Regions from separate parts of the Homo sapiens genome. Here all the other regions are reported to be linked to region 6. Evidence: microRNA targets listed by miRTarBase, many of them from high-throughput screens and not tested one by one. Region 6 holds a microRNA gene; each other region holds the end of a gene's coding sequence.
What was found. The annotated mature microRNA hsa-miR-4662a-5p reads UUAGCCAAUUGUCCAUCUUUAG and lies in region 6 at 2,732-2,753, shown strand. An mRNA with a match to its seed (bases 2 to 7 or 8) in the 3' UTR can be bound and repressed. Matches are read on the target gene's strand: a 7mer-m8 pairs with bases 2 to 8, a 7mer-A1 pairs with bases 2 to 7 and ends in A, and an 8mer does both.

Region 1 (4,636 bases), not on the chromosome of region 6:
TCTCCTACTTCCCACTTTCAAAACAACAAAGGCCCAAATCCCCAAAGACTCTGTATTTTTCTGGCTAAAACTCTCTGGGGAAACACAGTTGTGAGGGTGCCTTGATGCTTCCCAGGTCATTTGGTCGACTACATATAGAGATCAGCTAAAGTCTGGCAGTGGTCACTCTACTTGGTCATAGGGAGAGGGCCAGAAGGCAGGCTCCCAGCCAGTTGTACCTCTGTCACACCATATCAGAGTGGGGGAAGGAAGTGGCTGGAGATGCTCCAGATGACATTGTCCTCCAAGTTAGATGCTTTTGTGTTGTTTTGAAGCCAGCCAGTGAATAGAGACAAAGAAGTATACTCTGGGTGAGTTGTCCCATGCTTTCTATAGTGAAGAAGTGCTTAAGATGAAGTCCTGAGTGGACATTAAACTGGGAGTAAGAGAATCTAGATTCTAGTCTTAATTGGGCCTCAATTTCCTCATCTGTAAAATGAGATGGTAGAACTAGATAATCTCTAGAAGGGATTGGTAAAATATTGGAAGAGATATTGGATTGGTTTCAGCTACAATGGATCCCTTGAATATATACAAAAGTGTAGGTGTGTGTGCACGTGCACGCATGTGTGGTTTCATTCAAACTGTTGAGAATTATTAAGCCTTTTTCAAACTCTGAAGTTCATCTTTGTCTTTTTTTAAGTCTCTTCATCATATCAAAATCATTTTTTCAAATGTGTTGAGTAATGAAAATAAGTGCTTTTCAGAACTAATCCTTTAATGCATGTTTAAACATTTAATCTAGAACTTGATTACAAATTTAATGAAGAAAATAATCTGTTATAATTCTTATAGATGTTTATTAGTTTTTAGATTTAAAAAAAAAACAGGGCTTATAATTAAAGCAATTGACTAATGATCTCACAGCCTCAAGGTTGTATGCAAACCTAGATTAGAAATACTTTGTCTCTAAAAATAACAAAATGACCATAACATTTTTTTTCTTACAAGTTTGAAGTGGTCAATTATGGGTAACACATACATTCCTAAGGAAATCTGAAATGGTCTTGAAGAATAAGTTTCTTTGAAATGGTAAGTAACACAAAAAGTGTACTTCTTTTTTTGGAAAATGATTCACAAATAACCCCTTTAAACCAACAATTGGTGATTTATATTCTGGTCAGGATTTTGGAGTCTGGGCAATGCCATTACTTAGCTGTTTTGACTATGAGAACTTTTACAAATTTATTCTGACTTCTATGATCTTTAATCTCTTTTCTACACCTGAAAAATAATAAAGATTGTAAACTAGATGTCCTCAAAGATTCTTCCCTCCCCAGTGATACATGACTATACTTGGGACTCTCTAAATGCCCTGCTGTCAACAGAGCTATCCTGAAGCTTACTGAACACAAGGTGGTGCTTTCATATGAGCTTCTTTCTAGTTCTTTTGTTAATTAAGAACAAGTTTTTGTTTTTTGTCCCCAGTTTAGCCAAATGCTCCTGAAATAGAAATGCATTAGTAAATAAGAGCTTCATTTTTAATAGGTTTTCCCCTTTCTTTAGGAGTGATAGAAGTTTCATAATGTGTATTTCGTTTTCCTAATAATTTCAAAAAGGCAAATTTCACTAGGGCCATGAAAGTATTCTTGGATTTATCCAGACTATGTAGAAACCACCATCACAGCTGGCTAAAAAGCAAAAGCTTGGTTAAATTGACTTGGCGTGGTTCCCAGGGTTTCCCAGGCATTAAGCAATATCTGAAAGTTAAAAGTCTGTCACCTTCAGAAGCTGCAATAACTCTTTGATTCACTGTAGTCCAATTTAACACATTGTTATGTAATAATATATATATGTGAGTAATATGAGAAAGCTGATTTTTCTTCAACGGCAGCACATTCATAACTTAGGATATAACATCTCTGGGATGTTGTCAATTTTAAAGTCTCTCCTTCCTAGTTGGTTGGTTACATAACCATGGGAGTACTGTTCTTTATCTGTTAAAAAATTCTTTCAGGTGTCATTACTGTTGTGTATAGATGTGGTCACTTTTGTTTAGATATCTTAACACTGAGGAGTTGGATGAGAACGTTTTTAAGGAACTATTTTCCCCTAAGGCAAGCAGAGCATATTTTATAAGGACCACCACTTACACTACCTTAGTCATAGCCATCTATACTCCACAGGAATGTTGCTGTTGAATGCCCACCATATGAAAGGCAGTGTCAGCATGCAGCGGGCAGTGTAGAGGTAAAGTGATTACACCTGTCCACACTTGTAGTCACAGCACTTTAGAATCATAGAATTCTACCAAAGACAACCTCTTATAATAGAAAGTATCTAACAATGTCAACTCATCTAAATCTATCACCACCAAATGTTAACAGATGGGAAAGGGAGATGATGGGAGGTAACAGATTTTCTTAAAGTCATATTGCTTTAGGTGATTGTAAATTCCACACTTTTCTGATTCCTGGACCAATATTCTCGTAACACCTCATGATTTATGTATAGAACCTGTGGAGAATGAAGCTACCTAAAAGTGCCCTTTGTGCACAGTCTCTGATAAAATATGTTATGATTTGCCTAAATTGTCTCTTACACTTGAAATTACTTTTAAAAAATCCATGAAAAATCAAAGTTAAAAGTAGCAGACCATTAATGTTATAAAACAACAGCTTTCCTAGTTTTCTTCTTACTAATAAAAGTCCTGATTGGTGTTTGTTAAGTTGCATCAGCTAGAGATTAAAATAATTATTAACTATTTTGCTAAGATTCAAACAGATGGAAAATGCTTGAAATATCTCAATTTTGTACTTAAAATAAATGCTTATAAAGTGATATATTTTAGGTTATTAAGGACAATTTGTTGAATACTTGTCGAGTTAGTGTTTGGCTTGTCCTATTCTTTTAAAACAAGTCTATTGTAGCTCTCTTAACTCTCCTAACAGCTGGCTCCCATTCAACGTCAAAAGTACAAATTTTAATAACTATTTCTAATGCCATAGTAACTTTAGAGAGATGGGGCATCCCTTTTTAATTATTAAAAAAGGGTCTGTTTTGGTGCCAAACTACAGAAGGTGCAGTTTTGAGGACAGATTAGAAATTGAATACACCAAGGTAGCTGCTTGGGAAAATGAACAGTATATAATCTAATCTCTTTAATTTTATGTACATGAATATAATGTATGTCAACTTTGTACATGAGATACATATAGTATTTAAACATTTTACTCAACAAACAAGAATTTACAATAGCAATATAACTGACTAGAGGGCTATCAACTTAATAATACTTAGATTAGATCTGTACTTTAATAGGAAAAGAATTTAATAGTTTACAATCATAGAAACACTGACATTTAAAACAAGAATTTATAAAATAATTTATATATATCCTAGCATCTACAGAGAGGAATGATTTGCATTTGTGGGTGTGTGCAATGAATGGCATATTTTAAATTTTTAGGTAATAAAATAATTTAGAAGCAGTTCATGCAGTGGTCAAAGCAAGGAATGGCAAGTTCCTTCAAGAAGCCCTCTATCTTTGACACCAACCGGCATCAGACACACACTAGGTACCATGGGGCACGCTAGAACAAGTCTCCTTCAAGAGTTACTTATATAAACATCAATATACACACGTTGATATCCTTCCTTCCATAGTACAAGTACAGGTCACAACTTCTCTCAACTGTGGGAGTAGTCAGTTTATACTTAAAGTGATTTAATGTCCCTCCTGGAGTTCTACATAATATATCTCTATAAGAAGGTAACTAACAGAACTTTCTAGTTTTCACAACCTTACTCTGATACTTTACAGAGTGCCCCCCATGTCCTATGACATAAACATCCAGCAGGTAAGATTTGCCAGGCTGAAGACCTTTAATTGTTTCTGTGGTCACTGCTTTCTGCAGGTTTTGACTGTGGAAATATTTACAGAGGACCTTTTCTGACTTCTTCCTTATATCTGGTCCTAGACATTGGTTTTGCTCTCTTTTCTTCTGGTCTTCATTGTAGTTATCATCCACTTCTTTTTTGTAGATGCAAAACTTGTTCCTTTCCTGAGTGCCTAGCCAAGCCACGGTGGCTGAGGAACAGGTACGGAGCTTGTCAAAGGCTTTGATTCTTGTGTCTTCAGGAAGAGAGGGAAATGACTGCTTAGTAGGCCTTGTGGTAGCTAGAATTTTCAACATAGATGCTCCTTTCTTGTTTCCTTTCAGTCGAACGAGGTATTTAGCTTTAGGTTTTCCTCTAAGCTGAAACTGCTGAATGCCTTCCACATTCTGAGACAGAAGAAGTTTCCCATCTCTTCTCACTTGGATTTGGACAGCATCCAGACAAGAGTGAATAAAGAAGGTGACTTTTTGGTGAGAAGAGACTGGAGCAAACCGTAGAAACTTTGCTCCCTTCCTTTTAACAAATACATCTGTTATCTTCCCATCTTTTAGCTCGACTGTCTTCTGTTTGGCTTCTTCCTTGGTCCTGGCAAAGGTACCTACATAAGCGGTGCTCATGTTGCTGTTGATGTTGACCACAAATACATCAAAGTAGTACTGCGTGTCGGGTTTCAGATCAGAGACGGTGAAGATGTTCTTGTTTCCTATGCAGATTTTCTGAATATCAACCTTGGGCCTGGAGTAGACATGACGCCCCA
Region 2 (4,511 bases), not on the chromosome of region 6:
GAAAAGGGCAGTAGATATCTAAGTGTGACATGTACCTTCATCTCCTGGAGCTGTACCCAGCATCAACGCAGTTAGTGTAGGGGTGTTCACTGAGCCAGCCTTTTTGGAGAAACTTTCTCTGGGCTTTATTTCTCTCAAACACCAACATGATGTTCCTTCTGCCTCTGTCTAGACCTTAGGTCTCTTCTTCCCCAGCTTTTTGAATAGTCAGTAAAATTGATTTTAGCTAAACAGCTTATTGCTTTTCTTTATATTAGAGTTCATTTGGATAAAGAAGCCAGCATGACACTACTTGTTGGAAGCCAGGAAAAAAACAATTGTGTGTGCTAGAGATGTTTCCTTTTGCTACATTTGCAGCCCTGGTGACTGTGACATAAATCTATTGAGCCTTGCCATTGCTTCGCTGGGTTCCAAGAACATCCAATACTTGTCTGATGTTAAGTTTTACTGCCCATGAAAGCAAACATCACCTCTGTCATGGCCAGTTAAACAGTATCTTTTCAGTGGACTTCTGCATATCTGAAACCCACCCATCCAAAGCCAAAAGTAATGCCGGGGGAAAGATTTTATGCTGCCATGTTTCTTACAAGGGAAGATCAAGGGTCAACTTGATTCATAAAATTACTGCAGTCATTTTTCAGCTGGCTGAGAGACTTCACAGATCAAAAAATACGTGGCTCCTAAATGATTTCTGATATGCACAATTCTAGTGTTTTTTGTTCTCAGCATGTGGCGCAAAGCCTGCCAGAAACCATCTTTGCGGCTATTGACAGGCGGATTAGAAATCATCCACGATGGTTTCCTTCATTTCTCTACAGGCTGGTCATCCATTTAAACTGCTTAATGTGAATTCCTCTCAAAGCCTGCTTTGTACATGCTTTTCCCTGACGTTTTGTTCTTCTCTTTCAGTGTGGTGCTCACCTTGGGCACATTTTTGATGATGGGCCTCGTCCAACTGGGAAAAGATACTGCATAAATTCGGCTGCCTTGTCTTTTACACCTGCGGATAGCAGTGGCACCGCCGAGGGAGGCAGTGGGGTCGCCAGCCCGGCCCAGGCAGACAAAGCGGAGCTCTAGAGTAATGGAGAGTGATGGAAACAAAGTGTACTTAATGCACAGCTTATTAAAAAAATCAAAATTGTTATCTTAATAGATATATTTTTTCAAAAACTATAAGGGCAGTTTTGTGCTATTGATATTTTTTCTTCTTTTGCTTAAACAGAAGCCCTGGCCATCCATGTATTTTGCAATTGACTAGATCAAGAACTGTTTATAGCTTTAGCAAATGGAGACAGCTTTGTGAAACTTCTTCACAAGCCACTTATACCCTTTGGCATTCTTTTCTTTGAGCACATGGCTTCTTTTGCAGTTTTTCCCCCTTTGATTCAGAAGCAGAGGGTTCATGGTCTTCAAACATGAAAATAGAGATCTCCTCTGCAGTGTAGAGACCAGAGCTGGGCAGTGCAGGGCATGGAGACCTGCAAGACACATGGCCTTGAGGCCTTTGCACAGACCCACCTAAGATAAGGTTGGAGTGATGTTTTAATGAGACTGTTCAGCTTTGTGGAAAGTTTGAGCTAAGGTCATTTTTTTTTTTCTCACTGAAAGGGTGTGAAGGTCTAAAGTCTTTCCTTATGTTAAATTGTTGCCAGATCCAAAGGGGCATACTGAGTGTTGTGGCAGAGAAGTAAACATTACCACACTGTTAGGCCTTTATTTTATTTTATTTTCCATCGAAAGCATTGGAGGCCCAGTGCAATGGCTCACGCCTGTGATCCCAGCACTTTGGGAGGCCAAGGCGGGTGGATCACGAGGTCAGGAGATGGAGACCATCCTGGCTAACATGGTGAAACCCCGTCTCTACTAAAAATACGAAAAATTAGCCAGGCGTGGTGGTGGGCACCTGTAGTCCCAGCTACTCAGGAGGCTGAGGCAGGAGAATGGCGTGAACCCGGAAGGCGGAGCTTGCAGTTAGCCGAGATCATGCCACTGCACTCCAGCCTACATGACAATGTGACACTCCATCTCAAAAAATAATAATAATAACAATATAAGAACTAGCTGGGCATGGTGGCGCATGCATGTAGTCCCAGCTACTCCTGAGGCTCAGTCAGGAGAATCGCTTGAACTTGGGAGGCGGAGGTTGCAGTGAGCTGAGCTCATACCACTGCACTCCAGCCTGAACAGAGTGAGATCCTGTCAAAAAAGAAAAGAAAAAGAAAGCAGCATTCAAATGTAAGACAACTGTAAAATATTGAGCCCCACTTGGTCTAAAATTCAAAAAGAAGAACGCCTGTCCATCGCCTTTTTATAAGTCCTTCTCTCCACACCTAAAAGCAGCTGCAGCTGGAAGGGCACAAATTCCACTGTGTAAAATAAAATATTAGGGGCAACACACTTCATCAAGGCAGCAGGAATGAGAGAGAGCAGAGAAGATCAAGGATGAAGTCTTGGGTACTGAAAAATTCAGTGCTGGGCAGAAAAACTGACAGGGCAGTACAAGTAACAAACAGAATCCAAGTGGGGTGGCCCTTGTGCACAGAGCTCCAGGTGACCTCTGGAGAGACATGGGCATTCACATGGAAAGCTAAAACGGAAGCTCAAGTTTCATACTCAACATAATCTTCTGTGTGACAAAGGACAAGCCATGTAGCCTCTCTGTGCCTATTTCTTCATGCATAAACTGGGACTCATAATATTTGTAAAATGTATTGATACTCTCAGGGCAAATTCACTATATTGCTATACAGTTGAGATCAGTGTTGTAAAATTAAACTGATCTGGTTCTAATTGCCTCAAAGGCCAAAGCCCAGGCATTTGAAATGGAAAGAAGCAGAGAGGAGGCTGACTTAGCTGATTGGTATGGAAACAGTTGGGCCAAGAGCCAGAATTTCCCTTTGTAGCAACACGGCTAGTTTTACTTTGAGAAGCTCTGCTCAGCTGCTTTATAACATTAAGTCTGGCGGAATGGATGTCACTGTGCACAATAAAGTTTTCACAAGTATAAACAATGGTGATGTAAGTCAACATTGCTGTAGCCAGGTGTGAAGGTTGTATGGTGTGTGACGAATGTACATCATGTTTGTAGGTTTGGATGCTAATCTTGAATTGTAGTTTAAAAAATACGTATTTTTGTAACTCTTTGAAAGTTTATGAAGACTGACAGCTTTCCTTGTAAGCACTAAGAGAAAAAAAAGAAAGAGGGACATTTGACAATTTTAAAGAAACAACAAGAAATTAGAATGAAAATCTGTGACAAACAGCGTCAGTGTGGCCATGTCCACATTCCTACATGTCTCTCTCTACAAGCACCTCTCTAAGAAGCCTGACATCCCGGTGGACTCTTTATAGTCATGTACACTTGATTCCAGATGAGCTCTGGTCTTATCTGGATGCTCAGATAAGAGGTTTCTATCTGAGCATCCAGATGTTCCCTCAGGTTCCAAGACATTTCACCCCAGGCCCTGGGTTCACTCTGGAATTCGTAGGCTTCACGTCTCTCTAGAAATGACGTGTAAAATTTAAGACCAGACCTCAGCCATCAGCGTCCAGACCATCCTAGAAGTCTTTCCCAATCTCACAGAGAAAGCCCTAGTATTTCCCAGTGACCCCAGGATTCCACGTTGGGGTGGCCAAAGAAATAGGTCTCTCAGGGCTTTGCCACAGCCTCCAGCCCATCCTTCAGAGGCACACACAGCACCTCTCGGCTGCTCCAGCTCTGTAGGATAGCCTCCCCTGGGGTCCGTGGGACGCGGGCCACAGTGTTGAGGTAGACAAGGAGGATCAGTGAGAGGCCTCTTCCCTCTCCACAGAGACTGGATTGTCATTGTTCCTTCATTTATATCGTAGGGCTTAACATTTCACTCAAAAAAAAGCCCCTCTTTTTCTAATCCTTAGTCTTTGTTTCAAGGAAAGCCAGTTTTTCTTCTACCACATTTTCCAGGATCGACTTTAAGAAAAATGCAACATCTATTGAAAAAAAGTGGGGTGTATGCATGTGGTTTAATTCCAGATTGCTTTTGGGTTTAAGTGGTATCAAATTTCAGTATATTTCTGTCTTATGTGAAAGAAATATATTACTAAAACGTCAGTGAGCAATAATGTCAGCTGTCAAGCACTAGATTTATTTTTGCAGGATATGGAGTGCAATGAACTGAGTCAATATGGCAAGGTGTATGTGATCTGTGGGAGTTATGCCATTTAACATAGGAAGTGCATGGGACTTTCCCTCTCTGCACTCCAGCTCTTACTGTACCATTAGAAGATGCAGAATTCTGTTGGTGTGCAAAAAGTATAGCCTTACATTCAAGCAGAATGGATCTGAAGAAAGCAGCAATATCTGTTACTAGAGAACATTCCCATGTGTTTAAACTCTTCACTTCTTAGATGCATTTAAATTCTTAATGCAAATGACGTAGCAATTTGAAAACTTCTCCGTATTACTTGTGTTTAAAATGTCTTGCTTTAAATACAAAACAAATGGTAAAGGGGATTATCTTTTGTTTAGATGG
Region 3 (4,636 bases), not on the chromosome of region 6:
GCTTTCATCATCTCCAGGTGTCCCCCAAACTCCTCCCGTCTTACGCCTCCAGGCCCTACCTGGTTCCCAACGCCCTCTCATCCCCCAGCGTCCCACCTGCACTTTCCGCCTCTTCAGCGCCGCCGCGTCCAGCCACACGCCGCAGGCCTCCTCCTCGGGGCCTGTCCGCCTCATGGCCGCTGAGGAGACGAAGCCGGCAGGACGCCGGCGCAGGCTCCCGGCGCCTCAGGGAACGCCAGAACCGCGGCCGCCGACGTTCGGATCTCGCGCCAACGCTGGGGGCGGGGCTACGTCGCGACCGCCCCGGGCGCCAGCCCCGCCCCGGCAAGGCCCTGGCCCCCTTCGCTGTGCCCCGCCCACGCACTAACTTTCGCGGCCGGTCCCTTGAGTGCGTGCGGCATATTTCCCTGCGCGGAGGAGTGCGTGTTCTTTCTGATCCGCTCTTTCAAGAGCGGATTCGGAAGCTGCTGTGTGAACGGTTCTCGACAGCCTCAGAAATGTACATTTTCTTTTTGCTGTATTGAAAATTTCTTACAGTATTTCCCGGGCTTAGGAATTTGTTCGTGTCATCGCTGAATCTTCGCGATCACCCCCAGAAGGAAGTGGCTGAGCCGAGATCAGGCCCGTCGACTCCAGACCAGGGGTCCTCGACCTAAGTGGTTACCAGACACTCGAGTGTGCGAACAACTTTGGTAATTTTTTTTTTTTAATGTAAGCGTAACTACGAAGCCACATGGGAGAGGATTTTGAAGAGGTTAAAATTTGGGGTCAGGAACTAGATTTCAGTCCTGCTTTCACCGTTTACTGTGCCTTGGATTTTAAAGAGGATCAAATGAGGTTGTGAAAGTACTTTGTGAATTCAGAAAACCCCTTGGAAATGCAAAAATGTTGGCACCCCCACCCATCCTTCCGTCCCTAACCACAATCTCCATAGATGGAATATATGTACATTATACGTAATGTTTACATATTGTATATGTAAAAAAAATTTTTTTTTGAGACGGAGTCTCACTGTCGCCCAGGCTGGAGTGCAGTGGCGCTATCTCGGCTCACTGCAGCCCCGCCTCCTGGGTTCAAGCGGTTCTTCTGTCTCAGCCTCCCTAGTAGCTGGAAGTACAGGCGCACGCCACCACACCCAGCTAATTTTTGTATTTTTAGTAGAGACGGGGTTTCACCATTGGCCAGGCTGGTCTCGAACTCCTGACCTCGTGATACGCCTGCCTCAGCCTCCCAAAGTGCTGGGATTACAGGCATGAGCCACCGCGCCCGGCCAAAAATTTTGTAATTTTTTTTTTTTGGTGGAGGGAGGATAGAAGCTCAGCCACCTCTTGCCCAGTCTGCAGCAGGTCAGCCAGGAACCTCAACCATCTCTGCAGCCAGAGCCTGTCTTCATGGTGGACAGAGCCATCTCGCTTTGTCACCCAGGCTCGGGTACAGTGGCACAGTCTCAGCTCACTGCAGCCTCAACCTCTTGGGCTCAAGCGATCCTGCCACCTCAGCCTCCCAAGTAGCTGGGACTACAGGTGTGTGCCACCACGCCTGGCTAATTTTTGTATTTTTAGTAGAGATGGGTTTTCGCCATGTTGGCCAGACTGGTCTCAACTTCCTGCCCTCAGGTGATATGCCTGCCTCAGCCTCCCAAAGTGCTGGGATTACAAGCGTGAGTCACCATGCCTGGCCTATATCAAAATATTTATTTATATACACATATTTTATGTGTGTGTGTGTGTGTGTGTGTGTGTGTGTGTGTGTGTGTATTTCATAAGGTCCCCCATGATATTTCAGCAGTGAAGTGATATTTCTAATTAATTTGGGTTTTCTTATCTTCCCAATTTTCCTTCATTGTATATATATTGCTGTGTACTATGGAAAAAGCAATATTATAAAAGTTAACATACTTCTTCGGTGCGCATGCGACGAGGCTCAATATGTGTGGTGGAGTGTGCACGCCCCTGCCCCCTCCACTAAAAACAAAACAAAAAAACCCTCCTTAATTGAAGGAAAAACCAAACAAAAAAAGTCTTTGTCAGATCATAAAGTGGGATTATCATATTTTAAACACATTATTTTAACTACTTATAAAACTTTAGTAATAAAACTGCCGCCCACTCCCTTGCCAAACAAATTTTGTATATATAGATATGGTATATAAGGCCCCAACCCCATCCCCCAGCAAAGATAAAACAAGAACTGCTCCCTGCACCCTGTGTCCACTCCCAGGGGCCCCAGCTTCCTCCGGAAAACCTCCAGTAATGTGAGCAGGGGCCCCTCCCGGAAACAGGAGACAAAAAACAAAGAGGTGGCTACTGTCACAGTACTTTATTGCATCCAGGCCATAATCCAGACCACCCAGCCCCAACCCCACTTTTCCTTCCACACCTCTTGGTCTCTGCACAGGTTTCCCTCTGCCTGGAATGCCCTTCCTATTCTCCATCTGCAAACTCCTATTCACACTCCCCAACCTAAGACCCTGAGGGTCCCAGGCAGCACAGGTTAATCCCTCTCCAGCACCTCCCTTGACAGTTCATTCTGATATCAAAGCCTTTGTCGGCCAGGCGCAGTGGCTCATGCCGGTAATCCCAGCACTTTGGGAGGCCGAGACGGGCAGATCACCTGAGGTCAGGAGTTCAAGACCAGCCTGACCAACATGGAGAAACCCCGTCTCTACTAAAAATACAGAAAATTAGCCAGGCATGGTGGTGCATGCCTGTAACCCCAGCTACTCGGGAGGCTGAGGCAGGAAAATCGCTTGAACCTGGGAGGCGGAGGTGCAGTGAGCCGAGATCGCACCATTTTACTCCAGCCTAGCCAACAAGAGCGAAACTCCTCAAAAAAAAAAAAAAAAAAAAAAAAAAAAAAAGCCTTTGTCATCTTGCATTGATCCACAGGGCCCAGTGGTGACCTGCCTCTGAGCAGAGGCCCAGGAAACACTGAATGGATAAATGAATCCGTAACAAGGGAACCAGGAGAGAAGCTGGGAACAGGCCGTGTGGGACACAGAAGCCAGAGCTAGGAGATCTGGGGCTCACTGTCTGGGATAGTGACTGAAGGAGTATGAAGCACTGGATGGGACCCATTTGTATCTGGCACAATCTACTACCTTTGGGGTCTCTCTGCAGCTCCAACACTTGTGGCTGGGCTTCAAGGGACAGTAAGATCCTGTATATATTTTGGGCCTACCCCTTCCGCATCCAGCAATGAAATCTGAGTAGAAGTAGGTTGCCAAGGCCTCCCCTGGCTCAGCTCAAATCTGACTCTGGCCTAAGTTTCACCTCCTGCCTAGACAATCTAGAAGCCCCAATCCTCACCAAGCTGACCCCCAGCCTCACCCCAGTGAGTGGCAGTGGAAGGGCAAGCTGGAGTGGCCCACACCGTTAACTCTTTCCCTCTCCCTGGGCAAGGAGCTGGGGCAGGCCCAGGAGTGGACCCCAGCAACTCCTAGCCAATCCCTAAATCCAAGAATTGGCCAGTGATGCCCTTGGCAGTTGAGTCGTGCACAGAGAGTCACTGTGGGCCAGACACAAACAACTTTACCAGGCCTTGTTCCCACCTGGAGCCAAACCCAGACCCCTGTCCCCCAACTATACCTCCCTCCCTACCAGATGCCATCCCCCTTCACTTGGTCTTCTGATCAAGTTTGCGCTGTACCAGCTGGCTCAGGAGGAATGCAGTGAGGATGCTGCTGCCCACCGTGAGCAGGAAGAGGCCAGAAAAGTTGTGAGGCCAGTGCGTGTGCAGAGGCTCATAGATGGGCCGTCGGGCCTCATAGTCCAGTGCCACAGCCTCCAGCTGAGCCAGCGTGCACAGCACCAAGAAGATGTGGAAAAGTTGGTGGCCCTGCCCGAAGACATGGCAGCTGCCAGGGAACCAGCGCTCGGGCATGAAGGTAGAGAAGAAGGCAGCAGCCAGCAGAAAGAAGACCACCTGGCACTTGTGGTAGAGAAGAGCTGGATCATCCGTGGTGGGGTCGGAGGACACGAAGATACGATGCACCACAGGACTAATGTCCAGTGCGTAGGCCAGGACGGAGGGCACCTCCTGGCATGTGCGGCCCAGCAGGCCTGGTTTCTGGATGTACTTGTTATAGCAGGAGCCAATGCAGGAAAGCCAGGCGAGAAAGGCAGCCATGGGCAGAAAAACAGCCTGCACCTGGGCATGCCAGGCGGGCTCGATAGCATAGTAGAAGTGTGCCAAGGCACTGCCAAACTGGTACACGGCCACCCCCACATAGTCCAGGAAGAAGAAGCTGTAATGCCAGAACTCAGACTTGGCCTGCAGGAGGTGAGCCAAGGCACTGAAGGAGAGGTAGGTGAAAGAGGCAAGGACAATGATGAAGAGGGGCAGGGCGTGTGGGTCTCCCCAGAAGTCCACGGTCTCCACAAAGAGGGCCAGCCGCAGCAGCAGTACCAGGGCCGCCAGCAGGTGGGTCCAGACATTCACGGCCTCGTTGTGCTGCTGGAACAGCGTGCGGAAATAGAAGCGCCAGGTCTGATGCAGCGGCCGGTAGCCCGCATAGATGTACGGCTTCCAGAAGAGCGGCGGCACCTCAGCTCGATCCACCGTGAAGACAGGCTCTGGCTGCAGAGATAGCTGAGGCTCCTGGATGACCTGCCGCAGACTCGGCAGGAGGTGGCTG
Region 4 (4,636 bases), not on the chromosome of region 6:
CATCTTTTAAAAATGGTGGGATTAATCGGATTATGAAATTGATAAAACCAAACCCTAATAAAAGTCATTTCCTTCCTTAAAATCTTTTTTTTTTTTTGAGATAGAGTCTCGCTCTGTCGCCCAGGCTGGAGTACAGTGGTGTGATCTCAGCTTACTGCAACTTCCACCTCCTGGGTTTGAGCGATTCTCCTGCCCCAGACTCCAGAGTAGCTGGGAATACAGGTGCCTGTCACCACGTCCGGCTAATTTTTCTATTTTTAGTAGAGACAGGGTTTCGCCAAGTTGGCCAGGCTGGTCTTGAACTCCTGACCTCAGGTGATCCGCCCGCCTCAGCCTCCCAAAGTGCTGGGATTACAGGCGTGAGCCACTGTGCCCGGCCCCCCTTGAAACTCTTTAATGGTGTCTCATTGCTTACACATTACAGTTCAAGCTCCCAAACACGGAACACACGACTCCTTCCTCCTGTTCCTAAGAACTTAAAATGGTAGTCTCAATTCTTACCACTTCCTGCCTCGCCTATGATACACCAGCAACACCAGATTGCTTGTAATTCTTGACAAACACATAACACAGCTTGTTCTACCTCTGGTGTTTGTTCACAGTACCCACTCTGTCAGGAACTGCCATAACCCTCATTCTTATCCTTAATCAAATTGCAATTCAGTCACTACTTTCTCTAGGTAGCCTCTTCTAATTTATCCAGACTACTTTAGGTAACCCCGAGTTTCTATAAACTCATGTTCATGTCAATTACTGCACTAATTATATAACGGTGTATGCTCTGGTGTTTCTCCTACCAACTACACTGTGAAGTCCTTCAGGGAGGCAAATGTGTCTTACTTATCTCTGTATCCCCAGTACTTAGCACAGCGTTTGCCACGTTAGGTACTCAATAAATATTTGTTGAAGAAAGGATTCAATGGCATTTTTATCAACATTATTAACAACTCTTCAGCCTAGTTTACTCTGAAGGTAAACTAGGGTTATATAATTTTAGATACAGTTGTAAATACAAACACATATAGTTGTTTTACTTCTCATTTATTGTTGTTTTGACCTCAGAGAGTCAAAGATGTAAATGGAGATGTATATTAAGTATGAAGAAATAGGGATACCTCTGAGAAATATCAACCAACATATGATATGCAAAAAAAAAAAAGGGGGAAATTGTGTGGTGAGAAGGTCCATCAACCCAAAAATAATGGCCATAAAGTGCCAGATAATCTAGTTCCAGATGCAAACCTAAATATAAATTCTGCCTGCATTTGGTGAAAATGACATGCATTAGGTTGTAAGAATATGAACCAAATATCAATTATCTGCTTGAAGAAGTTGAACGTGTTTATTATATTAATAAATTCAACCTTTACTATTATAGAATGTTATAATAATTTCTAAAGTGAATATTGCTTGAATTTTAAAATATTGATAATTATATATATTAAACCTTGAAGTGATTTCAGAGATAATCTGGTACAATATTTTATAGACGAAAGACACCAAGGCCCAGGGAAACTAAGTGACTTTGTTCAAGATCATACAGGTAGTTAGAATGACCAGGACTGTTTTACTGCTAAATTCAGTTTTCCTTCTGGTACATACTGCCTGGGAGGGAATTTCATTAATTTTCTTCTAAAACATATTCATGAGATTTGCATCCAATCTCAATAATAATATCATATTAGAAGAAAATTACTTCAGTGAAAATAAATTTTTATTCAATTTCATAAACTATGCTAAAATTATGGGAAATTTACTTAGAAATGCCAACATCATTTCTGGGGGGAAAATTACTGATCATTAAAATATTTTAATTTGCATACTACATTAGTTAACGAGGACTGACTTTTGCTCTTCTCAGTCATTATTGTGTCACCATTCAGAAACCTAATGAGCCAATTTATAATCTCTACAATTAACAGTAATAAAACTTACAAGTAATTAACTATTTCACTACAATTACTATCATTTTTAACTATCTTACTCAATGGAATAAGGTCATTGCCTTTGTAGCATTTTCTAATTATTTTTTAATATTTTATTTTACTGTTATTTTTTCAAGGCTAGTCAAGTCAAGCAGTGGGAGTAAAGAAACACCACTGCACTTGTGCCAGCCTCGTTTTTAAAAAAGCTTTATATTAAAAACCGATTTTTAAAATCTTGATAATCGAAGAATATTTTCAAAAAACTAGCAGCAAAGGCAAAACAAATCCCTAAAAACCTACTGGCTCTGTATTTTTTCTCCCAGTAACTGACTGACCTATTTAAACAAAAGCATTTCCTTTTGAGAGGCCCAAATGACTAAATTAGGTTATGGAAGGGTTGAAAGCGTGAGAGCTCTCATGGCTGCAATGCAGAGGGCTGTGGATACAGCTTCCCTAGAATTTAAGCATGGGTAAGCATATGTTAAGAGGAGTTATAAGGCTCCCTGAGTCTTACTGAGGGTATCCACATTGGGTGCCAGGTGAAACAAGAATCAGTAAACCTTTCTAGCCTGTGAGGTTAAGTATACTTAGCTGATTTCACTATCATGAATTCACCTGCAGCCGTATCTATAGGTTATCAATTTGAAAATTTCTAAGCGCACCATAGTGAGGTATTTGCAATCTTTGGTGCTGTGCCATGACATTGGTTGATGTTCGATGCTTCTACAACATAAGCATTTACTTTAGTGGACATAAGGGCTACCTAAGTATTAAGCAAAGTAACACTGATCAATGTGAAAATAGAAATTTAAAAAACGTATCTACTAATATGTGTTTGAAAATGCTTACCCATATAAAATTTCCATTATTATACAAAGGCTTTCATGATGCAACTCCCTGGCTCTTAAATTTTAAAAAGTACAGAATAAAATTCTCAATTCTTTTTTTGACACTTTTTACTCTTGAGTTTGCCACTAAAGTAAAAGAGAGAAACATCCCAAACTGGTCATTTATGAAAACGTTAAGTTCAGTGTGAAACTTGCTTTAAAACTACAAATTATGTCAGACAAAATAAATATATATGCTCACATTTATAAAATTTTCCACAGTACTCATAGAAACAAGCTTCATAAAATTTATACTGAATACAATAAAAATCAGTTCTAATAAAGATTTAGCTATCTTCCTAAATAAAAATTTCTGTGTTTGAGGTATCACTGTAAGACATGCCAATATGGCACATTTGTAAAACAACCCAGGAGTCTATTCTAAAAATCACAACCAACTCAGCATCATCTCTGCAGACTTACTAACAGGCTGAACTAATCTCTTTATACAAGAAGTATTTTAATTATTACAAAAACAAAGGAGGCAGGTACTAGAAATTCTGCATTTCATAGAAGAGTAAAACTTTGTTAGAGATATTTTCATGATCATCTACCTGCAGACACCATTCATTTAAAAAGTCCTAGTCAAGACCATTAAGCAGCTGCATCTTCTACAACATTGAAAAAAAATCCCTAGAGATTTAAAAAACTGAAGAATTTCACTATCTTTAAAAGATATTATATTTTAGTACATAAAGCTATTAAATTTCTCTGTGTCAAGAGCAAAACATTACCCCTTACCTTGCTTCATCATTGGAAGGTGGACACCTGATCCAGCAATACTCATTAACTGCTAGGTAGATGACCCATGTTGATGGCAGTAAAGCCATTTTACAATGAACTTATGAAGTAGTAACACTAGCCAAACACACAGAGACACAAATACCAAAAATGATGTGTTTAGTATACACAAATAGCTATACTTGGGGCATGGCTATCAAGTAACAAGACTGATTTAATACTTTACAGTTACAGCACATTAAAAATATATTGCCAGAGGGATAATGGTCCCAAATACGAAAAATGTCTATATGGAAAAGGCTGTGATTTATTGCAAAGCATAATATATAGCAAATTCCAAGGAAGGGCAAACACGTTTTAAAAACAAATTTTTAAATTTAACGGCTTAAGCCAAAGTCTCAGTTACTTTCTGGAGAATTCAGAACTATTAGGTGTAGAAGAATGCTTTTCCTTTTTTCTCTTCTTTTTTTCCTTTTTGTGATGTTTCCCTTTTTTTGATTTACTCTTTTTTTCTTTTTTCTTTTCTTTCTTCTGATATTTTTGTTTCTTTTGTTTTGAAGTGTCCTCTTCAGTGGAACTGGATGAGTAAGACCTATGGATAATAATACATACTGACTGAGAATTGCATTTATGACTGATAGATAAATTTAAGTGGGATTTGAACTGCCTTAAATTCTTCTTGGAGTAAGGTAGGGAGTATAAACATAAACTTAAAAAATGCTTCATATATTTGCATTCCCTTAAAACGATGAATTTAGAATTTTTGCTGCTTGGTCACAGAAACCAACAAAACTAGTATCTATTCCACTCAATACTAATGTAATGAGTTTTAAAGTCAATAAGGATGAAATTATTTTTCTGTGATTTTTGGTTTTTCATGCAGTCATATCATTCAAAATCCTAAAAGGCAAACAAAGGGGCATTCACCAAGCCTTATTATATTCACTTGTGTATACAATAACTTCGCATATTTTCTTAAAAGTGTCTCAAAAGTTGCAATTCTCTATTTTAAAGGGCTATAATTGTACGTTCATATGAATGAATGAAAGCTGAAAGTTAGCAAAATAAAAGCACTTTTGGTAA
Region 5 (4,636 bases), not on the chromosome of region 6:
TTATCAGTAAAATCGATATTAAAAAATGCTAATTAAATGAAGATTGTGTTAGTCATATTTGGCTTTTGTGTTACTGTTAAAGTGAGAATAGAAAATGCTTAATGACAAAAGGAACTTTAATTAGAGTTTAGTTAATAACTACGGTTTCTTTTTAAGCTTTTAATTCTAATCTGTCAACCTAAATGACTTTCCCAGGAATATTTAGTGACATTCATCTGCTGGCTATGATGTACAGTGGAGAAATGTGTTACTGGGGATCGAAGTATTGTGCTGATCAGCAACCAGAAAATCATGAAGTGGATACTAGTGTGTCTGGAGCGGGCTGCACTACATACAAGGAACCCTTGGATTTCCGAGAAGTAGGAGAAAAAATCTTGAAAAAGTATGTATCTGTGTGTGAAGGACCCCTGAAAGAACAAGAATGGAATACAACGAATGCAAAACAAATTTTAAACTTCTTTCATCATCGCTGTAACTAGTAAGTTCATCTAGTCCTTTTCAAATAGAAAAACAACAAAACCCATGAAATGGAAAAGAGAGTTCCAAAAAAGAAGACCTGTTGATACTGAATATGAGAACATTACACTGCATAAAGATATCCAGCTTGGGTACCCTACTAAAACAACATCACCATCTTTTTCATTATATATTAGTAAACCTATGAAGGGATGATTCTTTAATTTCTAAAGTGTTGTTCAAACTCACCTTAAAATACAGATGTTATGTCACTAATAATGAGTAGTAACCCAATTTAGCTTTACAAAGATTTTTTCTATTACTTTTTTTTTTTATTGTGGTATATGTAACACAAGTTTACCATTTTTATCATCTTTAGATTATTTTTAAATCTCACTACCTTGAAGTTTGCCATGCTTCAGAAATTAAAGTCAAGTTACTTCACTGCTTTGAATACATACTATGGATATAAATGTAGGCAAAATGAAAGATTATGACTAATATTCAGATTCCATTTTCAATAAGGTAAATAATGAAAGATCTCACAAAGGAATCATTGTGTTTAATTATTTTGCCATGTATTACTAATTGTATTTAAAATTTCTACTTCCCTTAGGCATTTTATAAAAATTTAAAAATTATTTTTCTATTTTGTTTAAAAGACAATGCATGGCTTTTCAAGTGAGTAATGAAGATAAAAACCAAGCTAGGTTAGTCTACCATTAGTTCATATGTTTTTGTAGCACATCTTTTCATAACATACTGAAATTTTAATGTTTTTTGCCTTTAATAATAGGGGTGAGTGTTAAAGGCCAGAGAGCCTAACTTGATATCTTGCTCATGGTCTTTCTGTCTACCTCAACTCCTGTTGTCATCTTTGGATGATCTTTCTGATACCTTGCTGATACCTTGGACTTCTGCCCAGTGACTTTATTACATTCCAGCAGCTTACTCCCGTGGCCGCACTTTGAATGTCACCACCTTGAGTTTCTCTTTCTGGTAAAATTTCAGTAACTGATAACTGCCCTCTTTTCAGTTTTTTCACTTCCTTATTTTATTGACTTTTCTCTCCTTTATGCTCATTCCACATTCTTCAGTTCCTTCTTACCCCCTTTTCTTGACTGCTCCCCTTCCTCCTAAACTGTCAGCCCCTTTCAGGCTTTCTTCCCTATCCACCCTCAGCTTTATGGGATACTATATGAACTAATCTCACCAGTTATTCTTCTTTCCCTGGTCTTTTAGTCTAGTCCTTTGGCAAGCCCTCAACCTCAGATTAATCCTATTTATTATCTACCTTTTCGGGGATGCTGAGTTCTTTGTGATGGGTAGTCCTTCAAAGTAGAATCACTACAAGTGTCTCACTTCAGCCTTAGAAAAGCCCTCAATGTAAACCTTATGTTTGTTACTAGGGTGGCCTCTCTCCCATTTCCCGCTGTGGCTGAGCCAAACTTCATTACTTTCCTTAGGCCCTCTGCCCCTCCCCTAGCATATGGCTCTTTCTCCTATTGAACAGAAAATTGAGACTATGAAGAGGTCAACTTGTATTTACCAACTTTACTCATTTTCCCATTTTAGAGGAAAAGAGGTTGCCTGCTTCCTATCAAAGGCGACTCTGTGCTACATGTTGGTTTCATCTTCGCTGTCTCTCTCATTTCCCCACAAAGTGTTGTCTCACTTTCTGCCTACCTTTTAGGTATTGATCTTCACTATATTTTTTTCTCTCTCTCTCTTTTTTTTTTTTACTTTACATATTTTATACAATGTCATTCATAACTATGGCTTCTTTTACCACCTGTAATAACAGACTGAGTCTCAAACCTGTAACTTGTATCCTGACTTATCTCTTGCTTTCTAAACCTTGTTTCTAACTGTCTATCAAATATCTTCATTAGACATCCCACAGTAATTTTAAGCTCAGTGTTTCCAAACGTCAAGTCCTCATCTGTTATATAAAATCCTTTCTGCTTTGTAAGTTTTCTCTTTTTGGGATTTTCCGCAGATCAGGGCAACACAGAATGACTACCTTCCCAGCCATGTCTCTGCAGTCATCCTGTGTAATCATGTTCTAGTCCAGTGTTGCTCAAACAGTTAAAATCCAGGCTGCTTTTGGTAAACATACAAATTCTGATATAGAGCCTCTGTGGCAAAGGGAATTTCTCAGTTCCTGCCCCAGCCCCCTTGTTTATCATTACACAGCTAAGATTTTTATTTAACTTAGCATTTTAGCAAGTTTTCTTATGAAAATACCTTTGTGCTTTCTAAGTATAAAGATTTAAATTATTTTTAATACGGTTTTTAGAACCACAGACTATCCCTCTTTTTAGAGCATCCTGATCAATTGCAAGTACTTCCACTTCTTCCCTAAATGCGCTTTGTGTGTTTTCCACCTCAGTAGCCTTGCACACATCATTACTTCTGCATCCTTCTTTGTGACCAAGTGAATACCTACCTACCTCTTAGGACTCAGCTTCAGTGATTCTGTTTTCATAGGCTTTTTAAAGCCCTTTTCAGTCAAATTAGATGCTCCTTTGTTCTGGTCCTTTACTCTTCCCCTCCCATGTTGTCGCACTGATCACACTGCTTTGTAATTATTTTCTTTATTGTTGGTAAACTCCATATTTTAAAAATTTACCTGTATACATAGTGCTTAATGCATGGTAGGCCCTTAGTAATGTTTTTGAATTAATGAGGCATGATTCTAAATGCCAAACTTTGCACAAAAAGTTGTTGCTATTGGATTCCAAACTGCTATGCCCTCTATACCAGTGGCTGACAAGGCATATAGGGATATATGCCATCCTGAGAGGAGTAAAGTGTTTAGATTCTGAACCTGAGAAAAGAGAACTTTCTCTTAAGAAGTTGGAAACTTCATTTTACCTTCGTGACCCTGGTAGACCACTTGGTCTCACTGGTTGGTACAATTATGAGGGTAGTACTGGGTGCTTTTTATACAACTTTCCATCCCCCACACAGTTGGAGAATAATTTGTAGACCATGGCAGTTAAAATGCTTTTTACTCTGGTGTATTATAGAATAATGAACACATTTTTATATATGTTAAAGCCTGCTAAATCATTCACTTAGAATGAAGTAACCTCAAGGTACCAAATACCCCACATAAGGAAAGTACTACACTAAATTCACTCAACTATTGTATGCCTACCATATGCCAGATTTTATCCTAGACCCTGAGGATATAGCTTTTTAAAACCCCCTCCTGTTTCAGAGCTTATATTCTAGTGGAGGAAGTTAGACAAGCATTTTAAGTAATAAATGTATAGAGAGTGTCAAGTGATGAGTACCATGAAGAAGAATAAATGAGGGTAAGGGGCTAGTGTGATAGGGAGAGGGGTGGGATGCCATCATATTTAGGGGTGGTTGGGAACTGTCTACTGCTTTAGCATTTGTGTCTTCAAATTTCTCTCCTTTGGTTATATACCTTGCGTATTCCGCACATTGATAAAGTTTCTTTCTTACAGAAGTTCTGATATTGAATTAAGGAATGGGTCACTACTTAAGACTTTATCATTTCAGCTACACATAAAAGGTTTCTCTCCCCTATGGATTTTGCTAATGGTTGAGTGATACCTAAAGGCCTTGTTGCATTTTTTACACTTGGGGTTTCTCTTCGGTTTGAATTCTCTCATGGTTACCAAAACTCTGTTAAAGGACTTTTCACAGTCGTTAAATGTGTATGGCTCTTTCCCAATATGAATTTTTTTGATGTTAACTAGGCTTTTAGACTTAGTTAAAGACCTGTGTGCTCTGCTGCATTTATAGGGTTTTGGGCTGCTGAGAATAATTGATGCTGATTAAGGTGCAAATCATGACTAAAGACTTTTCTTTCTTCTTTTGCATATAGTAGAGTGAGGTGAGGGTCGTGGCTAAAACCCCACAATAACTTTACATTCCTAGCTTTACAGTCTTGCTGTGAATTCTCTGGTGTTCATTAAAGTGTGAGCTGTGTTAAAAGGCATTCTTAGATTCATTTTAACCACATTTTTAAAAACTCACAGTTGGTTAACATGATGGTTTCAGATTGCTTGCCTCTTTTCTCTTTCTACCTTACAGGGCTCCTTTTCTAGCTTAAATAAGGGTACTCCATCTGCCACAGAATCCAGGATTCTATAGTTTTTTAGTTTCACTTCCCTATGTTCTTTTTTTTTTTTTAATTTTTAAC
Region 6 (4,636 bases):
TGATTCATGTAACCATTACCGTAATCAAGATAGAGAACTGTTTCATCACAACAAGCCTCCCTCATTCTACCTCTTATAGACTTATCTCCTCTCCTTCCTTATCCCTAGCCCTGGAAACCACTGATCAATTATTCTCTATCTCTATAATATTGTCATTTCAAGAATACTATAAAAATTCAAAAGGTTACAATATGTAACTTTTGAGATTGGCTTTTTTCACCCAGTGTAATTCTCTTGAGATTCATCCATGTTGGCTGTATTAAGAGTTTATTCCTGTTTATTGCTGCATAGTATTCCATGGTATGGATGTTTAACCATTCAACCATTGAAGGACATTTGGGTTGTTTCTAGGTTTTAGATATTTCCAATAAAGCTTCTATGAACACTCATGTACAGGTTTTCGTGTGAACTTAAGTTTTCATTTCTCTGAGATAAATGTACAAATGTGCAAATGGTAAGTGCATGCTTAGTTTTATAAGAAACTGGCAAGCTATTTTCCAGGGTGATGCTACCATTTGACATTTCCATCAGCAGTGTGTAAGTGATCCAGTTTCTTTACATCCTCACTAGCATTTGGTGTTATTGCTTTTTTTAATTTTAGCCATTCTAATAGTTACACCATAACAACTCATTGTAGTTTTAATTTGAATTTTTCTAATGGCTAATGGTGTTGAACATATTTTCATATGCTTATTTGCCATCTGTACATTTTCTTCTATGAGCCATTTATTTGTGGTTTTTGGCCCATTTTGTAATTAGATTGTTTTGTCTTCTACTGTTATGTTTTGAGAGTTCTTTATATAGTCTAGATACAAGTCTGTTAGATGAATATGTGGTTTGCCAATATTTTCTCCCAGTCTCTGGTTTATTTTTTCATTCTGTTTTTTTTTTTTTTTTTTTTTTGAGATGGAGTTTCGCTCTTGTTGCCCAGGCTAGAGTGCAATGGCGCATCTTGGCTCACCGCAACCTCCACCTCCTGGGTTCAGGCAATTCTCCTGCCTCAGCCTCCCGAGTAGCTGGGATTACAGGCATCTGCCACCAAGCCTGTCTAATTTTTTGTATTTTCGTAGAGACGGGGTTTCTCCATGTTGGTCAGGCTGGTCTCGAACTCCCGACCTCTCGTGATCCTCCCAAAATGCTGGGATTACAGGTGTGAGCCACTGTGCCCAGCCTTTTCATTCTCTTAATAGGGTGTTTTTCAGAGCAAACATTTTTAATTTTGATGAAGTATCAAGATGCCTCAATTTTTTCTTTTATAAATTGTGCTTTTGATTTTAAGTCTAAGACCTCCTTAACTTAGCTCTAAGTGCTAAAGATTTTCTCCCATATTTTTCTCTAAAAGTGTTGAAGTTTTATGTTTACATCTAAGTCTGTGATCTATGTTAATTTTTGTATAAAGTTTTAAAGTATGAGACTTAAGTTAAAACAAGAGATTTTGTTTTGTTTTGTTTTTTGCTCCAACACCACTTGTTGAAAAGAGTTTCCTTCCTTCATTCACTCGCTTTTGCACTTTTGGTATTTTTGGTAAAAAATCAGTTGAGTATATTTTTGTGGGTCTATTTCTGAGTCCTCTATTCTGTTTCATTGATTTGTGGGTTTATCTCTCCACCAATATCATACTACCTTGGCAACTGTAGCTATATAGTGAGACTTAACACAAGGTAGAGTGCTTCCTCCTACTTTTTAAAATAGTTATCACAGCTATTTTATTTTCAAAATTTTTGCCTCCCATACAAATTTTAGAATAAGCTTGGCTTTGTCTACAAAATCTTTTTGGGATTTTGATAAGAATTGTGTTAAACTATTGATAATTTGGGAAGAATTGACATCTCCACTATGATGAGTCTTCCAGTCTATGAACATGGTATTTCTCCTCATTTATGTAGGTCTTTATTTTTTCATCAGCATTTTGTAATTTTCATCAGAGACATAGTATATGTATTTATACCTAAGTATTTTATTTTCTTTGAAGTGATTGTAAATGGTATTGTTTTTAATTTCAGTTTCCCCATGTTCATTGACAGGATAAACAAATGCATTTGATTTTTGAGTGTTGATCATGTATTCTGTGACCTTACTTAATTCACTTATTAATTCTAGGAGGTTTATTTTAGTTTATGTTTTTTAGATTCTTTAGGATTGTATAAATAGACAATCATGTTATCTGCAAATAGAGATGATTTTATTTCTTTCTTTTCAATCTGTATGTCTTGTATTTCTTTTTCTTGCTATATTGCACTGGCTAGAACTTCTACTACCCTGTTGAAGAAGATGTTGAAAGCAGACATCTTTGTCTTATTCCCAATCTCAGTGGGAAGACGTTCAGTTGGCACCATTAAGTATGATGTTAGATGTTTTTTTTTTTTTGTAAATGCTTTTTCACAAATTGAGATATTTTTCGTCTGTTCCTACTTCAGTGAGTTTTTTTGAAAAATAGGGATCATACTTTGCTTTCACAGGATTGCTGTGATGATTCTAGGTGAAACATAAGTAAAAGTTTATGGCTGTTGTGGGCCCTCAAATAAGGTTTAGAAAAACAACCTTTGGACAACATTAAGGCGAGTCATTACAACTTAAAGTGAAACCTTCTGTAGACAAATGATCTCACATCTTCACTTCTAGGTATCTCTTCTGAAGAAACATTGGCTCATGTCCCAGAGATTTATATACAAGGAAGTTTACTGCAACCATGGCTGCAACAGAAAAAGCCATTGTGTACCACAGTGTCTATTTAGCCAATTGTCCATCTTTAGCTATTCTGAATGCCTAAAGATAGACAATTGGCTAAATAGAAATTGTGGTACATCCATACAATGGAATACCATGAAGCCATCGACAAAACATCAAGATTCTATTGACCAACATGGAAAGAGTGCCATGGATGGGCACGGTGGCTCACACCTGTAATCCCAGCACTTTGGGAGGCCAAGATGGTTATATCACCTGAGGTCAGGAGTTTGAGACTAGCCTGGCCAACATGGCGAAACCCTGTCTCTACTAAAAATACAAAAATTAGGTGGGCATGGAGGCAGGCACCTGTAATCCCAGCTACTCAGGAGTCTGAGGCAGGAGAATCGCTTGAATCTGGGAGGTGGAGGTTGCAGTGAGCTGAGATTGTGCCATTGCACTCCAGCCTGGGCAACAAGAGCAAAATCTCAAAAAGAAAAAAAAAAGAGAGAGAAAAAGTGCCAAGACACAAGGTTAGGTGAACAAAGGAAGTCTCAAAACAGAACAATTTGATTTTATATTTATAAATGGCATAATATATAAATATGGCTTATAAATTTATACTTATATCTACATACATATAGTATATAAGTATGTATTTTTAAAACCCAGTCATATATTGTAAACACATTCCTAAGTGCATAGAAAAAGGCCTAGAAGGACTTGACACTCATTTGTTAACATCGGACATCCTTCGGGAAATGAATGGGATTGGGTAGAGTACAAAGGGGTACAAAAGATCACTTTAAAAAACTTTATAAATATATTTGGTCTTTAAAACATTTTTTTACAATGATAATGTTTATATTTACTATCTGTTTACCTAAATAAGACTCAGGTAGTATGGGGCAGGGAGTAGCAATTTCTAGTGGTAAAATTTCAGACAATTGTTTTCCATAGTCACTGGGACCCAGAATTCCTGAGCTCTCTTTGTTCTATTGCTGGCTGCAATATTAGTTGTATGATTTTGGACAAGTCACTTTCTCTCTCTGGGCCTCAGATTCCTCTTGTAATGAGGAGATTAAACTAGAGTACCCATGGATAAGCATTTTTATTATTCACATTTAAGCATCTGACCTCTCTTTGCAAATAGGTTTTTGTATGTGGAACCTTTATGTATACAACAGAAGAAAGCATGTCAACAACCCAACTATTTGTACCCCGGATCCATTTCAGCACTAACGTTTTCTGACTGGAGTTGAAGGCAGTGAACCCAAAGCCACCCGTCAGAACTATACTGCCCCTCAGCTGAGTGAAAAATAACTGGGTGATTTCAAGTGACCCACAGAAGCTCAGGAGTGACAGTTGCTCTCATAAAATGTGTTCCCTGAGCATTAAGCCCTGGTGTTGGCAGGGTCTGATAGCTCAGGGACTGTTTGAGCTCCAAGGAGATCATTACTGTTTCTAGAGAGTTCTATGAGGACCCTGGGTCTTTGGAAGAACTATCCATTTGTGGTTTTTAGGAGAATCAGGTCCTAGATCACTGAAGCCACAGCCCATGGCCCAGAGCTGTAGCTTTACTGCTTTGGGGCTGCAGCAGGGAGGCGAGGCCACCTGGGGAAGCTGAGGGCAAGAGTAGAGGTCAAGTGCAACACACAGCATGCTGTGAAATATGAGAAAGGCTCATAGTGTCTTTTCTTTGAAATGAAAAGCGCCATCTCGAGTTCTGTGGAATTGGGTCCAGCCTTCCTTGGCTATAACAGGCATGATAAGGATCATTTTGCCTCCTTTAGGAGCAGGGCTAGATGTCCTACAATTCTCTGCATTAGTTGAGCCCATGGACAGTAACAGCCATAGTCTGAGATATAAAAAAAAAAACAGCACATCGCCCAGAAAAAAGCCTGGGCCCTGTGCTTTTGGGATTCTATTCGCACGTGTTTCGGACTGGCAAGACTCAAACCCAGAAAGA
Region 7 (4,636 bases), not on the chromosome of region 6:
GCATAAACATCTGGTCCCAGCCTCTCTCCATCCTGATGTACTGCCAGCCTTGGTGTGAGGCATTTTTGTCTAATATGGGTGCTTGAGCTCATGTTCATTGATAAATTCTGACCTGGCCATTTGGCTGCCAGCACAGATGTAAATTTAGCCAGGTGATTTATCTCAGCTCAGACATGTAAATTATGTAGCAAAAGCAAGCTAGCTACTACAGTACTGAGATAGACACTTCATGTATGCAGCAGTCAGGCACGGTGCTCAGCCACCTTCATCCAGCCCAGATATTACCCGCCAATAACATTGTTCGCTTAGCTTGTTTAATGTGGGTCAGAAACAGTTCAAGTACAAGGTCACTTGATGAAAAGACCTAACCCATTTTTCCTGCACTGAACCACATCCCTTAGAGCTTGGACTCTCTGTTGGATTACGATTTCTATTTTGTAATAAAATGTATCCACTTAGCATTTAATCTTTGGTCTCTTAGTGGTTTTTCCTCTTTAACATCAATCATCATATCCACTTCCAGCCAGTAACAAGGTGGAAGAGCTGAAGAAGATTGCTCTTCTCTTTTAAGGAACTGCCCAGAAGTTGCACAACACTTCTACTTAAATCTCATTAACCAAAGCGTAGTCACGTGGTCATGTGTAGTTTCAGGGGAGTCTGGGGAAACAGTCCTTTGGATAGATCCAGCAAAAAGATGGAGTTCTTGTTAATGAGAATGAGCAACAACTAGCAGACTTTGAAACAATACTCAATGAAAATCTTAAGAAAAAATAGTGACTATATAATCTCATTAGGGCTCCAAAAGATTGTAAAAATAGGATACTGTTTTATGGTAATCAACTAATCATTCCGTCTTTTTTTCTTTTAGGACTTTCCGTGACATTTCTGAAGATCTGAAATCTTCAGTAGGTTGATGTGGTTTCCTCTGCAGTGATTTTTCTAGGAAGTTCAAATTTGACAGCGAGTTCAGCTCAGCTGTGGCCCTCTGCCCTTCCAGCTGTGCCTAGCAAGCAAAACCCAGGAAAGAAGCAGAAGCCTCCTGGCCTTACATACAGAATGCCTGGACAAGAGAGAACTTGCTGCGGGCTGCTTTGTATTTTAAAACACAGCTTGAGAGTTCAGAGTTGGTGGTTTGCTCACTTAACTGTTGTTAAGATGGCTTGAAAAGTTTCATTTTATACACTGGTACCCTGGCTTGAAATTTTTCCACTTTGGTTATCTATGTTACTATATTATATATTTATAAAGTTATTTTAAGAACTCTAAACTACCTGCTGTTAAAAGAATAGATGGTGTAATTTTTTCCTGGTTTAAGAAATGTATTGTTAAACTTTTCTAAGACAGTCACTTTTCAAGGAAGAGGGCTTTCACTTTTGAGTGTGTAGTTGAGTGAGCAGGAAAAATGAATCTTCTACCCTTCTCCCACAATGTATTATACGCTCTTTAAGAAATAATAAATCATAAGTATAAGGGTGGGGTGGCTTATTTGATGTTCAGTTTTATATTATAACCCTGGGAGATACAAAGACTGAAGCTCTTCCTCCTCTTCCTTTTCTCTTCACGCTTCTTTACACTATTGCCAAATTATAAAACTTGGCTGACCACGTTGAAGTGAAATACTTATTAAGCTGCTATGAATGGTAACAGTATGATAAAATTCATGCTGTTATTAGGTTTTCTCCTTCCAGGTGGTTGAAGTGAAAAATCTCAGGTGTAGCAATACTCTGATTTGTTAAATGTATCCGTTTCATTATTTGGAACTCTGCCAATAAGTTAGTTTTCAGCAGAATTTTGTATTTATGTAGTATTTTCCCATCTCTTAGCACAGTGCCTTGCACATGACTCTAAATGAATGCTTGTTGAATTGAATTGCAACTTTAAAAATATCTCAGATATCACAATAACCAGCATAGTGCTTTACATTTTACAAAGTCCTTTTGCACATACTATTTCACAAGTACATCACATCAGCTTTCATATAGCTTTATATTATTTTACATCAGTTTTACACTGATGGAGAAGCTAAGGTTCAGAAAAGTGACCAACTCAAAGTCGTAAAGTGTAGTAGGATTTGGCCTCAGATCTTTGACTCCGTTGTGTGCAGATTCTGCTGTATTAGTGTTCCTTCTAAATATTGTATGCAGTTTTCCCAGTGTTACGAGATTGGTGTTGCTATCCATTTGTTGTGAATGAAGACTTGTCCTATAGTACATGACAGGGCTGAGAGTGGACTGTAGTTCTTAGCTGAACCCTTTCTACTGTTTAAAACAATCATCAGGCCTATCCTCTGCTCCCAGGGGAATGTGGGAGAGAAAAGGGTTCTTGGCCAGGCTGTAGGTGGTGGCTCACATCTGTAATCCCAGCACTTTGGAAGGCTGAGGTGGGTGGATTGCTTGAGCCCAGGGATTTGAGATCAGCCTAGGCAACATGGCAAAACCCCATCTCTACAAAAAAAAAAAAAAAAAAAAAAAAATTAGCTGGGCACGGTGGTGTGGCTATAGTCTGAGCTACTCAGGAGGCTGATGTATGAGGATCACCTGAGTCCAGGAGGTCGAGGCTGCAGTGAGCCAAGATGGCGCCACTGCACTCCAGCCTGGGTGAGAGAGTGAGACACTGTCCCAAGGAAAAAAAAAAGTGTTGGGGGGTAGTTCTTAAGCGTTGAAGATTTCCTTTTTGGAAAGTATTTAAAGGTAGAAATATTAATAATTTTTCCTAAAACATCTCCCTAAGAAGTCACTGATAATTATAATTAGTTTAAATTTATTCTTACACTACTTAAGAAAAATTTCATTTAGAAAAGGCTACCATGAGATCTTTTGACTATATGGAGTAGACTGCATACAGATCTCTTTATTTCTATTATGAATATTTTAGCGATTATAATCAGCTATTCCACTGAGTATTAGATTTGGTCACTAAGTAACTCATGTTTTTCTTTAGTCAATCATTCATTCATTCACTAAAACATTTGTTGAGAGTTGGCTAAACTCTAGATTCTGTGCCAGGCACTGTACAGGGTGATGGAGATCACTCATAAGAAGGCCTCTTGCTCTTAGCCAGATCATATGTAATACTAAATTTAAATTTTTTGCATTAAAAGGCTAAAAAATCATTTGTTTTTGTTAATTATATACTGGTTGATTTATAGATGTAATTAGCACATATTCATAAGAGACAAATATATACAATGAGTTACTATACATATACAAAGTGATTTTAGCTGTATAAAGTGATATTGCAAAAAACTACAGCTAATGTTTCTTGCTGGGTAATTATTAGCATAAATATCAGGTTCTTAGAGGTCTTTAAGAGAATACTTTAGAGCTACCAAAATTAGCAGCAGTGATGTAATATCACCCTGAAATACCAGGAGCAGAGGTGCCCCAGAGTGCTTCACAGCTATGATCAGGAAACTTGACCTGCCCCATTGCTACAGCAACGGCATAAGGACTAGGAAGGTCCACTAGCTGGGGAGGTCTTGGAACCCTCCGAGCCAGAAAGAAGCATTCCAGCATGATTCCTCAGATGCAATGAGGAAGGTTTACAGAATTTTCACAGGGCAACAGAGATCAAGTGGTATGAAAAGGTAGGAGTTTTAAGCTCAAGTCTCAAAGATAACCTACCTTTACATTCTCAGTCAGAATTTGACCCAGAAAGAGGAAGTTTCTTCAGGAACAGACCGTACGTTGATGAAGTAGAAGTCATTTCAGTAAAAACGGAGTACAGAACTTGGTCATAATATCTTGCATTTTATAGATTTATTAAAGATTAGTTTCAAGTTCACATTCGCTATTCAGTTGTAAACCGAATGGATGGGAGGGGAGAAAATACAAGCTCTCCACACAGGTATGCTCCTCTCTTTTCTGAGAGAGAAGGCATGGGATTTTCAGCATAAATTCCATGTTATGTGAGTGCTGTTTGAGTTCTGAAGTTCCTATCAATATCTGTTCCTGCAAGTGATCTCTGTAAGACCACCTTACATGCTGGTCTTAGTTATTGTTAAAATTGCAAGGTTTCTTCACACCCTCTTTGATAAGAAGTGTTTAGCTGGCAGAGCTTTCCCTTGACTTCTGAGTCTAGTGTGGGTTGGCCCATGACAGTGGGAAGAAATCCAACATGTTACATGGAGACCTTGTATGTAAACAAACTCTGTAGCCTTTGAAAGTGGAACTGCTTTTTACAGTTAAAGGGCTGCTAAATGGCTTGCAGATGAGATCTTCTGGCTCACCTTGATCTTCACATGAACCCATTGTGACCTATCTGGATTTCCTAGGACCTGTAGTTTCCATTTGGGTTATATTAGTGCCTCAGGAATGTGTCACTACTGGTCAAGCAATACTCAGAAATTCAGGCTGTGAGGGGTTAGATTAGAGGAAAGTAATTTAGGTGAGCTATCCAGAGCTTTCAACCTCAGGGTTTATAGGAAAAAAAAACAAAATACAAAAACCCTTAGGACTTCTCATACTCTAGCCCTGACCTTGCAGTCTCCTCTGAGGGGCCTCCTAAGACCCTTAAAATAATATTACAATAGGACTTTGAGTGTGCATTTCACAGTGGAAATAGCCTCTGGCTAGCATTACTTCCAAATGCTAGTTCCAGCTAAAAACAAGTACTTTTTATTAGTTTCTTGTCTTTC

Region 1: the mRNA of NDNF is a reported target of hsa-miR-4662a-5p. The part of its 3' UTR that is shown has no 7-base or 8-base seed match.
Region 2: miRTarBase lists MSRB3 as a target of hsa-miR-4662a-5p. Seed matches in the 3' UTR shown: 7mer-A1 at 1,836-1,842.
Region 3: miRTarBase lists PAQR7 as a target of hsa-miR-4662a-5p. Seed matches in the 3' UTR shown: 7mer-m8 at 3,440-3,446, 7mer-m8 at 2,806-2,812 and 7mer-A1 at 2,684-2,690.
Region 4: the mRNA of SREK1IP1 is a reported target of hsa-miR-4662a-5p. Seed matches in the 3' UTR shown: 7mer-m8 at 3,672-3,678.
Region 5: the mRNA of RIMOC1 is a reported target of hsa-miR-4662a-5p. Seed matches in the 3' UTR shown: 7mer-A1 at 4,338-4,344.
Region 7: the mRNA of TMEM245 is a reported target of hsa-miR-4662a-5p. Seed matches in the 3' UTR shown: 8mer at 2,979-2,986.

Annotation. Positions count from the first base shown.
Region 1 is chr4:121,032,509-121,037,144 of GRCh38, forward strand. It overlaps NDNF (neuron derived neurotrophic factor), which reads right to left. Exons shown (of 4, transcript NM_024574.4): 4 at 3,105-4,636. The coding sequence ends at 3,756. Among named protein-coding and RNA genes, the nearest start is that of NDNF-AS1, 37 kb to the right of the region's middle.
Region 2 is chr12:65,462,246-65,466,756 of GRCh38, forward strand. MSRB3 (methionine sulfoxide reductase B3) reads left to right here. Exons shown (of 7, transcript NM_001031679.3): 7 at 910-4,511. The coding sequence ends at 1,077. Among named protein-coding and RNA genes, the nearest start is that of LINC02454, 140 kb to the right of the region's middle.
Region 3 is chr1:25,859,184-25,863,819 of GRCh38, forward strand. PAQR7 (progestin and adipoQ receptor family member 7) reads right to left here. Exons shown (of 3, transcript NM_178422.6): 3 at 2,301-4,636. The coding sequence ends at 3,616. It overlaps AUNIP (aurora kinase A and ninein interacting protein), which reads right to left and starts at 274. Exons shown (of 3, transcript NM_024037.3): 1 at 97-274. The coding sequence starts at 174. RefSeq lists enhancers at 1-554, 452-681, 555-1,180, 3,465-4,234 and silencers at 172-431, 1,032-1,091.
Region 4 is chr5:64,720,429-64,725,064 of GRCh38, forward strand. SREK1IP1 (SREK1 interacting protein 1) reads right to left here. Exons shown (of 5, transcript NM_173829.4): 5 at 1-4,145. The coding sequence ends at 3,956. Among named protein-coding and RNA genes, the nearest start is that of SHISAL2B, 32 kb to the left of the region's middle.
Region 5 is chr5:41,916,821-41,921,456 of GRCh38, forward strand. It overlaps RIMOC1 (RAB7A interacting MON1-CCZ1 complex subunit 1), which reads left to right. Exons shown (of 6, transcript NM_175921.6): 6 at 196-4,636. The coding sequence ends at 479. It also overlaps the pseudogene LOC100419715. Among named protein-coding and RNA genes, the nearest start is that of FBXO4, 6.1 kb to the right of the region's middle. RefSeq lists an enhancer at 1,527-1,686.
Region 6 is chr8:124,819,259-124,823,894 of GRCh38, forward strand. MIR4662A (microRNA 4662a) reads left to right here and starts at 2,727; the gene lies at 2,727-2,793. It overlaps MIR4662B (microRNA 4662b), which reads right to left and starts at 2,800; the gene lies at 2,720-2,800.
Region 7 is chr9:109,016,738-109,021,373 of GRCh38, reverse strand. TMEM245 (transmembrane protein 245) reads left to right here. Exons shown (of 18, transcript NM_032012.4): 18 at 869-4,636. The coding sequence ends at 914. Among named protein-coding and RNA genes, the nearest start is that of CTNNAL1, 5.6 kb to the right of the region's middle.